Linked DNA regions of Homo sapiens: region 2 is linked to region 1. The links come from fine-mapping of genetic effects on gene expression. A gene starts in region 1. The other region holds a variant in brackets. All regions are shown on one strand. Distances are from middle to middle.

Region 1 (5,368 bases):
CAGCCAGTGTGCCAGGGAGCTGAAGAGGACTCTGTGGACTCAAGAAGGGCCCTAAAAGAGGAGTGGTGAGGTGTTCAGGAGGGCAAGAGGCAGAGGAGCTCCTCAAAGCCTGGGAGGAGGATAGGGGAATTGACTCTGATGTCAATAGGGACCTTGAGCCTATGAGAGGCAAAAATGAAGATGGTGAAGAAGGATGAAGGGCTTCCCTGTGGTAATCAACAGGGCCCTGGCACAAACACTTCTGACAACACGCTTCTGTGTGACAATGATGAATGTCTGTAGACTTTAGAAAGGGTTGAGAATTTTTGGGGTCCAGCAGAGAAGATATTATGAGGAAAGAAGAGCCATCTGCCTCCCCATCATGTTACCAAGGCTGTTCACTTTCCAATAGCAGATGTCTGACAAAGGCAAGTTGTTTCTGTCTTCTTAGCTCACAGTCTCTGCCTCCTCAGCCCTGCAGCGTTAACAAGCAAAACTGTGCTTAGCAGAGCTTTGTAATTATGGCCTTCATGTACATAAGCCTGACTCTGTAGACCACAACAGCAGAAAAATCCAAAGCCTGGTGACGTCATGTGCTACCTGGCCCCACCTCAACCTGGGCTGTTCCTTGGAGGTGCACTCAGGAGGGAGCCACCCGCCCTGCTGGGCTCCGAGGTGACCAGGCTGTCTGCTGCTGCTGGCTGGGGCCCATCCTCCTCTGCTCTGACAGCCCAGACGCCTTCACTGAGCACCTCCTGGCTACTGACGTTGCTTTAGGAGCTTGAGTCTGAGAAGCCATGGAGATCAACAGAGCCTAGGCTGCTGGAGCTTACAGCCCTGGGGGTAGGGGAAGAGGGCACGACAGACACAAAAGGAGCCAATAAACCCACAAATAATTCCAAACTGTGATGGAGGATGTGGAAGAGAGTGGCAGAAGAGATGGATGCAGGGCGATCTTCCAGAAGCCACCAGTAAGAAGGAACCAGGTGCACTGGTTGGAGGAGTCCCAGGCAGGAAGGAGCTTGGCTCTGGCACTGAGAGAAAGGAGCCGTGATTGGAGCCCAGCGGGCAGGGGTGAGAGGCTCAGAGCAGCCAGGGAAGTCAGGCAGAGCCTCGTGGGAGTTTGGGTTTTAATATTCCTGGAGGCTTTTAAGCAGGGGGCTAGCAGGACCCGGTTTACACTTTGTGAGGTGCCTGGGACCAAGTGTGAAGAATGGATCATCTGGGAGAGTGGGTCAGAAGCTGGGGAGCCACTGCAGGTTTTGGAGGGGCGCAGGCAGTGAGATGAAAGGGCAAGATGCATGGAGAAGCCAGTGGGAAGTGGACTTGGGCCCTCTGGGAGGTGGACTTGAGGTGGGACACGGAGGCAGGGACAGGGACGACTGCAGAGAAACTAAGTAAGAGCAAGAGGCAGGTCTGAGACAGCAGGAGACAGCCAGGAGGAGCTGAGCTTGGAGGAGAGGGCCCCAGAGTGGTGCTGCTTAGAGTCATTCCCATACGGATGGTGTTTAAAGCTTTGGGGCTAGACAAGGCCCCCAGGGACAGAAATGGGCAGGGCAGGGCAGGGAGGTGGAGCTCAAGTTCTCCACTGGTTTCGCAGCTCTCCGGCCCCTGTGGAGGGGAAGTCCCACTCTGGGCAAATCACGTGGGGGTGGCCTCTGCCAGGAGGCACCCATTGCTCTGCAGCCTTTGGGGTCCGTAGCTCTGTCTAAACAGGCCTTAAGTATGCTAAGAGTCGTCGGCTGGCAATCGGTGCAACGTGGGGTAACACACCGTAAGTGCCACTTTCTCCCCATCCATTCATTCATTCATAAGCCTAATGAGCTGGGTCCCTACCACAGAATGCAGCTTCCCTCATGAGGGCTGGGCCGTGGCCCCATCCAGAGGGCACGGCACAAAGGTTCAGAACCAACATGCCACCAGTGTCTTTTCTGCTCCTTCCAGGGAACTGCCTTTTCTCTGAAAGCTCCCTAAATAGCTTGAGTGAAATTCCCTGGAAGAAGTCGGCTAGACAGCAGGCCCAGTGCCTGGCTCTGTCGCTCTTCTTTCTCTTTGTGCGTTTTTAACTTTGACAGATACTGCCTTCGGGACAAGCGAGCCCTCTTCTACATCCCCCAGACAGGCGCCTTATCCCCTCCTCTTTCCAGAGGAGGCCACCAGGCCCAGCGACCTCACAGCTCTCCCAGCTTCCTCGCACCAGAAGCGCACGGGGTGCCCTGCGTGTCCCACACCTGCTGCAAGACCAGGGCGAGTCCCTAGTCAGGCCACTTCCTGGTGCACAGGGATAGGGCAGGGAGAGGCAGGGCCTTGCCTTTGCTCTCCACCAGGTGTGAGTGCCTGCCATACCCTGACCCTCTGTCTACGCACCTGGGTCCCGGCGGAGTGGCTGGACCAGGCCTCCCCGGAAGGGGCACCAGCCTTGAGTAAACGGATGCCCACAGTGTCTGGGTGCTCCCAGGGCAGGGCCGCAGGGCCTCAGGGCCATACCCGCCTCGCAGGTGGGGCGGGCGCCCTGGATGCGCTCCCCGCGCCGGGCACCAGGCGTCGCCCCCGCTCCTCGCAGCGCCCAGGCCCCCGCCCCCGCCGCGGAGCCACAGCCGGAGCTGGAGCCGAGGCGGCGGCGGGACGCGGCCGGCCGGACAAATTTCCTGCTAGGCTGCGGACAGCGGGCGGCAGGAGCCGGCGCGAGCGGCTTCAGGAACCCACGGCCTCTGCGCGTCCCCGCGACCCTTCTTCGCGCCCGGCGAAGACAGCCGGGCGCCCCGGAGGGCGGCGGGCAGGCGCCCGGGAGATGCGGAGCCTCCGCTGCAGCGCGATCTGCGCGACCAGACCGGCCCCCCCGAGGTGAGCGCGCGTGCGGACAGGGACCCTGCGCCCCTGTGGGGAACTGTGCACCCCGGGAGGCCCAAGCAGGCCGGGGCGCTGCCTCGGCCGCTGCCGCGGGAGGGAGGGGCCGCTCCGGGGCTCAGAGTCCGGACCCCGGCCCCGCCGCCCCCGCGGCGCGCCCAGTACCAGCGGCTGGGGCCCGTACGACCCCCGACCCCGGCCTGTGGCGCGTCCCCTCACCCGGAGTCCCCAGCCCAACTTGGCGACCACAGTGGCAGTGCTCACGCTCCCTCTCGGTAAACAGGAGGAGGGCGCGCGTGTCTGCGGGTGGCTACAGTGCGCGGGGGCCGGCGGCAGGGCGGCGTACGTGAAAGCGGGCGACACAGAGAGGGGGTGCAGGCCGCGCGTGGGGGGCTGCGCCCACTCGAGGCTGGAGGCTGGAGCCTTTGAAGAAAGTGGCTCGAGTTGTGCCAACTCTGGGAGGGGCCGGCGCTCTGCCAGGATGCTGCCCCGCAGCCGGGCGGGCGCCCGCGCCTTCCCAGGGAGGCAGGTGGAGCGGGATGCAGCAGCCGCCGGGGGTCGGAGATGCGGCAGGGAGACCCTGGCAGGTGGTCCAGGCTGGACTGCCGCGATTTGCAGGGTCGACGACCTCACAGGGCTCCTGAGCACAGATGCGAGCGCGGTGCCAATTCTGAGAGCTCCCGGGACCATCTGGGGAAGGCCGGGCAACCCACAGGATGGGGAGGCAGAGCCAAGCCGGATGGAGACCGCGCTGGACCTGACCTAAATTCCTTCCAGGCATGCAAACCTTTCCAGAAAGATTAGGCAATTATACTTGCAGAATTATGATATTGGTTTGTCTTGAGTCGTGACCATTCCATCAGAGTTTCAATCCAGGAAACTCAAAGAAAGAATACAGCTCTCTGCTTGTATTTTAGAGTGAATGAGCGTATAGGTGAGTTGAATGAACACCAGCAAAGAGTGATCACGTGATACAGAAATTACTGTGTCCATGTCCAGTCAGCTCTGCATTTGGCCCCAGGTACCCCTTGACCCAGGGCGTCTGGAGGTCTTTGTGTCCCAAAGATGGATGAAGTTCTGCCTCTGCACACTAACGACTCTTGTCCATTTAAACTGTGTGTATGTGGGTGGGGAGGGGGGGTGTGGAGGGTCGTTTCCAAAACTGGGATAATGGCCAGAGGAGGGCATGAAATGGTGGGGGCCAGTGGCTGGGGCAAGCGTCTGACCACCACGGTCACTCAGCCAGCATGGTATGGGCAGAGCTCTGTGGTGTGAACAGGGTTAGGGTCTGTACTTTCCAAGCACAGGCTCTTGGCATTTGGGGAGCAAAAGGTCAGAGGCGAGGTGGAGCAGGCCCAAGAGGTGGGGGCTGCGCTGTCAGTGAGAGAGGCCTGACGTACCACCCAGCCCTTCCCAGACAAGGCTCTGCCCCTGAATCTGACCTTGGGGGCCAAGATTTTTGTTCATTGATGTTGGTGATGCCTGTGAGTCACCACCGCCCCCTCCCTGCCCCAACAGACCGTTCCCATGTGGACAAGAGCTAGGAGCTAGATTTGTCTCTGTAAAAGGTCAGGTCACTGGATGTGTCCAGATGGCTTGGGACTTAGTCACACACTCCCTCATCAGTTCCAGTCAAACCAGTTGAGGGAAGTCGATGAGGGTGTTATTGTCTTTACGTGTGATGCTTCTTGGAGGCCCTGTGTGGACACAAAGTGAGGACAATGCGGAAAGTCACACAGAGGCCACCTCTCATTTCTGTGGGGGACAGCTGGCAGAGAGAGATGCGCTCCCTGTGTCAGCACCGCCACCTCCACGGAAGCCTGGAGGAGGTCCTGAAGCACTGTGCCCTGATGGGAGCCCCCTCTTCTCCAGGGATGCGTGTGTGCAAACCATTGCCCCTGAGAGTAGATGCGGCTGTGTGTGTACATCCTTGCCCCTGAGAAGAGAGGTGGCTGTGTGTGCAAATCTTGCCCCCAAACCCCAAGAGAAGATGCATTCACAGTGGGGGTGATGGTAGATGCATCAGTTTCAACTGGTGAAAGTATGCTTCTCCCAGCTGTGCCTCAGTGGGTCCACTGTGCTCCATCTGCACCACCATTAGCCTAGTCTAAGGTGCACCGCTGATCAATATTCCCTCCCTGAAGGCCAGAGGTGTGTTTCTAGGCCCGGCCACTCCTCTGTAGTTCTCCTCCGCAGCTGCCCACTTGACATTTCTCCCTGGGATATCAAATGCCCCTTGACTCAATGCGTCAAAATCAAACTTGTGATCTCCCCTCCCCTTCCAGTACTTTCCCAGTGTTGTCTTTATCCATCCAATTCCACCAGCCTCCATGTTGCTTCTGAAATGTATGCCAGACTATAGTTTCTGTGAAGAGAGGGCAATACTGTATCTCCAGTGCCCAGCCATGTGCCTACCAGTGGAGCCTTGAGGACTACTGTCCATGGATAAACAACTTGGAAGTGAGACCTTCCCGAAGCGCATGTGCTGATGGAGCAAGTGTGTGTCTGTTGCGTGGATGTTGTATGGTTGATAGGCAGCCAC
Region 2 (5,368 bases), 160 kb after region 1:
TACATGGCTCCCCAAGTTTGGGCGAGGGGTTAGTGGGGTGAATAGCTTTTCAGATCAAGGCCATAACTAAGAATATACTTCAGCTGTGAAAACGTGCCCTTCACCTTGCACAGGGCTACCTTGTGTGTTGAGTACTGAATCCAGCATCACTCCGTTCCACCAGAGGTTGTCATCTGCAGGACCTGGTGTACGTGCGGTTAGATATCAGTGGAGCTGAAACCAGATTCCTCAGACTTCCTCACTCTTAGGCCAGGAGTCTTTAGGGCAATGAGCTCTGAAAGTCAGCGTCCATCAAAATCACCTGGGAAGTTGTTACAAATGCAGAATCTCTAAGAAAAAAGGACACACATGTGCACACGCAGAGGCCATCAGGAATGTGCCCAGCTGGAAACCTCAGGAAACCTGACGATCCTGGCTGAAGCAGATGAAAGCATGTGTTTCTCTCTTGCCAGCAGACACCCACAGGGAGCTAGCCCACGGCAGGACAGCAGCAGGGCCAGGGGCTTCCTTATCTCCCCGCCCATCCCCCTCAGCACGTAGCACTTAGCTCGGGACTGCAAAATAGCCGCAGCTCAGACAGGAAGTGGATAGGGGCAGAGGACTTTCTCCTAGTGACACTTTGTCTGTTGTTCACATCCCCCTCCCGAGGGACTTTAGCTCATATCGTATTGGACAGCACCATGCTGAGAGTAAGATTTTGACAAAGAGGAGGGGATTGGGAATGCAGGGTGAGGCTGGCCAGTCTCTGCCTCTCGCAAGGCTTTCACCAGCTCTCCCACACTTGGCTGTAGACCCAGCCCTCATCTGAACCCTGCTTCTTACCTGTGAACGTCATAACTCAACCTGGGCCCAATTATCTTGCCCACTGAGGAGTTCCTAGCTGGAGTGGGTGAGTGGCAGGACAGGCAGCCCCTACCGGTTCCGGAACGCTTCAGGGCATGACGTGTGTGTCCCCAACAAGCCTGAGAAGGGAGTGAACAGCTGTCCAGGGGCCAACGGCCAGGGTGCCGGGGCTGGGACCCCAAAGGGACTTCCCTTCATGCCTTTTGACTTCGAAATTGTCCTCTACACACAGGTCCCAAACAGGAAACGGTTAACGACTTCTGGAGAATGGTCTGGGAGCAAAAGTCTGCGACCATCGTCATGTTAACAAACTTGAAAGAAAGGAAAGAGGTGAGTTCCAGGCATCTGGCCCCGGTATCACTTCCTTTCAGCTGCTGCTGCCGGGCTGGGGATGTTCTTACCACTTCCTTTTCCTACTTCCCTCCCTTCCTCCCACTATCACTGCAGAAAAAAACCCAAACACATGCAGTGGCTTACAGCATTTTCTTCACGAAACAAATCCCCTGTGTCCCCAGCATCTCACTGTTATCTAATCTGTGATAACACAATGACACAAGAGTTTCCTTTTTTTCCCAAGTAAGAGTGGCCCCCGGCTGGCCCCATGGCTCTGCCTGCCTGATGAGAGACATGAATCTTAGAGTTTTAGGATGTTGAGCGTGTCATGCGGCAGAGCTCAGGCTAGAAATGAACATGATTTCGCGCTTATTATCCAGACTAGAGAAATGCTTTTGGAAAACGTTGGTATATTGAAGAAATGTTGATTTGTCATCCGAATATATTTAATTAGCTGTTTCTAATTCAAAAAAGGATGCATGTACGTTATAAGAATTTGAATCATTGACAAAGAAGAAAAGTTGAACTGATTCGTTTCCTAATGTAACAAGTACTCATTAGCATCTGCTGTGCTGGGCCAGCTCTGTCCCAGGTGCAAGGAGTAGGGGCTCAAATTCAGGGCTGAGAAGTGGTGGCTGTGGGGAGCCTGGGTGCGGGGGTGGGGTTGAGTGACAGGCAGGGAGCCATGCCATAGGCAGTGAGCTCACTCTCCAGAATGAAAGAAGAACTGGGAGCCTGAGGGACACTTACCACAGGTGGGGCGAAGTTAGGAGGCTGTGCTTCTGGCGTGTTCTGGCATGAAGGCCCGGTTCAGTGGGAGCCGTGTGTCCTGCCCGGCCCTGCTCAGGGCCTGCTGTGTCCTGAGCTCCTCAGTCATCTGCTGGCCTGGCCCCAGCAGTTCCCAGGCATTGTAGCGAGGACTGTGGGGAAGGGCTGCCATTTTTAGATGGGAGTACCAGGCCTTGGGGAGCTCAGCTGGGGCAGAAGATGGGTGGCAGGAGCCCACAGGAAGGGCAGGCTGGGAGGTGCTCTGGTCCCCGCAGTGCCAGCTTACTAATTGCCACCCAAAACACAGGAAGCAGCCTCCAGCCACCGTTTCTGGTCAGGAATAGGATGGAGGCTTTCATTCTGCTCTGGGGGGAGCTGAAACAGGACTGTGGAGGGCCACCCCTTTGCCCTTGCAAATCTTGCCCTTGTCATGCTTTGTCATGGGGAAGAGGGAAGAGTGACAGAGGGAAGTAGGG[G/T]ATTCCCAGCCCAGGACTCTTCACTCTGCCTGCGCTGTAGCGGCCATGGAGGAGGACACCCACGCGAGGGAAAAGGAGGCTGACCCTTCATCAGGAGCCTCAGGGTCCCCCGTGACCCATGGCCCATAGGGACCAGTCTTCCTGGGGTTGGTGCTCCAAGCATGAGACCAGCACAGAAGCAGTGGGGCTCAAGGACGCCCTCACTTCCCTCTTTCAGTCATTCTGCTGAAAGTGTCACTGGCATTTTCTCTCCATCTTCCCCCACAACCTCCTACTGGATTTTTCCACTCCTGTGACTCAGTGCTGGGCTGCTGCCGCGTCCTCATTCTCACCAATTCAGATGAAATCATTTCTCAATAGAGTTCCCTTTTTCTTAATTGCTCACACTTCTGTTGTGGTTTCCTTGGCTTCCACATCCTGGGCTCTGCATTGCAAAACACAGCTGCCCTGGCATCTCATGATCGGGTGGGAGGGAGGCAGAGGGAGGGGGTATAAAACCAGCCACCAACACTGAGCCCTTGAGAGGCTGACACATGTTCTCAGTTCCTACTGGAGAGCCTTCAAGGTGAGAAGCTCAGGAGGGACCCCAGGGCTCCCCATAGGGCCAAGACTCACCCAAACCGGGACATGTAGGCATTTGCAATTCCCCTGGGCTGCATCAGAGATGGCCTGTGACCCACAGCCCCGCAGCCCCGCCCGGAGCCAGGTGTAAGGAGGGGGAAGTTGTCGGTAGCCGTCATAACACAATGATGCTGCTCTCTACTAAATACCAGATGCTGTTTGTTTCATAAGACTGTTAATCCTGGAGGCTTGACCACGAGCTGTGCTGCTCAGGGGCCATTCCCTGGATATACTCTCTGACTACTGGCAGGCTTGTTCCATTCCAGACATGTTTCTCTGGCAGATGAAGTAGATCTTTTCCCCCTTGAGGTGGGTCCTCATTCACTCGCGAAGTGATGGAGGACACCACCGGGCAGGTGCTGCGGGCGGTGCTGCAAAATGAAAGGGCTCCTGGAACGTGTATTTTGGGTCATTCTTGCTTCAGAGGTCGGGAAGGTAAAGAAATGGGCCTGTCTGTAGCAATGCACCCTCTTCTGCAGACTCCACGGCAGCCTCGTCCCTGCTAGAGAAAAATGAAGATCGTTAGACCAATCATAGGTTCATCACTCTTGAATGGCAGACTGGCAGTGGTGCAAATTAACTTTGTCCTTAGTGAACTGAGCAGGAAAAACACAAATTGCTGAATCCAGTGGGAAATGTCTGGGGGGAGCACCGTCCTTGCCCTCTAGCCTGAGGGTCACTTGGAGTTAGGTGCCCAGCTCTGAAGGCTACAGGCTCAGCATAACTGGTTGATGGTCAGTTAATAAAATGTATGGGATTCGTGAATGAATGAAGAAATGAGACATTGTTGCTGTCTACATCAGAAAGCCTTGGGGCATCCTAGTCATAGTTTCAAGGCTGCTGTTCACCAGTTACGCAGCCTCAGTTTCCCCATTCAAGAGGTCGACACACGTGAACTTGTTTCTCAGCTGTGGGAGCTGTGTGACTCCAGCTGGTGTGTGTGAGGCCTTCTGTAGTTGGGTGGGGGGATGTCATGATGCATTGCACCCACAGATCTATTTGCTTCTATTAAATTGTTCCGTGCAGGAAAAGTGCCATCAGTACTGGCCCGACCAAGGCTGCTGGACCTATGGAAACATCCGGGTGTGCGTGGAGGACTGCGTGGTTTTGGTCGACTACACCATCCGGAAGTTCTGCATACAGCCAGTAAGCATCTCTAGTTGCTGCCCTTCCAGAAAGATCATTTTCAGAGAGCATCATGCCCAGAGTTAACATCCTTCTGCATTTATGAAGTGCTTTGCTCCCAGCCCGGCACTGTCGCAGCCCTGGCTGAGAGGGTGCAGTGGCCAGGCTGTGATAGGCAGACATGCAAGAGGGCCAAGACACCAGAGGCCGGTGCACAAGGGTCTGCAGGCAGTGCTGGGGGCTCCTAATTCCTAGTGACTCCTCTGGGCCTCTCCAGGAGGAAGACCAGTCATTGGAGGGGCCTGGGGGTGAGGTCCTCCCTCAGTAGCACAGTGACATTTCACACACTGACTGGGAGGTGGGGTTTTTTTCTAACACTTTCCGAATTCTGTCTGAAACCTCCTCGTTATTTTCCACACTTGGGTTCTGCTAGTTCCACCACCCCAAAAGGTTTAAGAGAGAGATCAGTAAAAATATGTGTATGCAAAGCAGATGAAATCAAGATATAGAAGAAAGTTTAAAACCATAGAGAAAAGACAGAAGACCATTTTGTCAGGATTTAAAGATACAGTCATTGGCATAATTAGGTCACAAAATAAGTGTCTGAGGTTCCAAGAAGCCACAGCAAAAAAGGAAAAGGATGAGCTGATTATTCTTATCCTATCCCCTGCTGGCATCTCTCCCAGAAATGTGCACACAGGCGCACACAGGCACTCACATGCACACGCACACACATACTCCCACACACAGGCACACACATGCACACATGCACATACACCCACACACAGGCATACACATGCACACACACCCACACACAGGCACACACACGTACACCTACCCACACACAGGCACGCACATGCACATACTCCCACACACATGCATGCACATGCACACGTACACCCACACACAGGCACACACATGCACACACACGCACACAACCGTACAATGCATGCACGTTCACACACACATGTGCACACACACCCCACTCACATGCACACATGCACACATTCACACATGTGCACACACATACACCCACACACATTCACATGCACACACATGCACACACGCACACACATTCATGCACATGCATACATGTGCACACACACGCACCCACACACGCACAGATGCACACATGCACATTCACACATGTGCACACACATACATCCACACACATTCACACACGCACACGTGCACACATGCAC

Direction of the effects. Positions count from the first base shown, and alleles are read on the strand shown. Sizes are in standard deviations (SD) of each study's normalised expression.
As copies of G replace T in region 2, the expression in monocytes of the gene that starts at base 2,617 in region 1 goes up (large effect, 0.77 SD a copy in Quach 2016).

Evidence for each region.
Region 2: its variant is fine-mapped to the expression of PTPRE in monocytes (Quach 2016, PIP 0.95).

The regions. Positions count from the first base shown.
Region 1 is chr10:127,904,487-127,909,854 of GRCh38, forward strand. It overlaps PTPRE (protein tyrosine phosphatase receptor type E), which reads left to right and starts at 2,617. Exons shown (of 21, transcript NM_006504.6): 1 at 2,617-2,823. RefSeq lists a silencer at 2,461-2,580.
Region 2 is chr10:128,062,008-128,067,375 of GRCh38, forward strand. It overlaps PTPRE (protein tyrosine phosphatase receptor type E), which reads left to right. Exons shown (of 21, transcript NM_006504.6): 10 at 1,076-1,173; 11 at 4,068-4,187. It overlaps AS-PTPRE (lncRNA antisense to PTPRE protein-coding gene), which reads right to left and starts at 418. Exons shown (of 3, transcript NR_136150.1): 1 at 120-418. RefSeq lists enhancers at 1-1,160, 492-541, 952-1,161, 1,501-2,099. The variant G/T (reference allele first, on the strand shown) is at 2,421.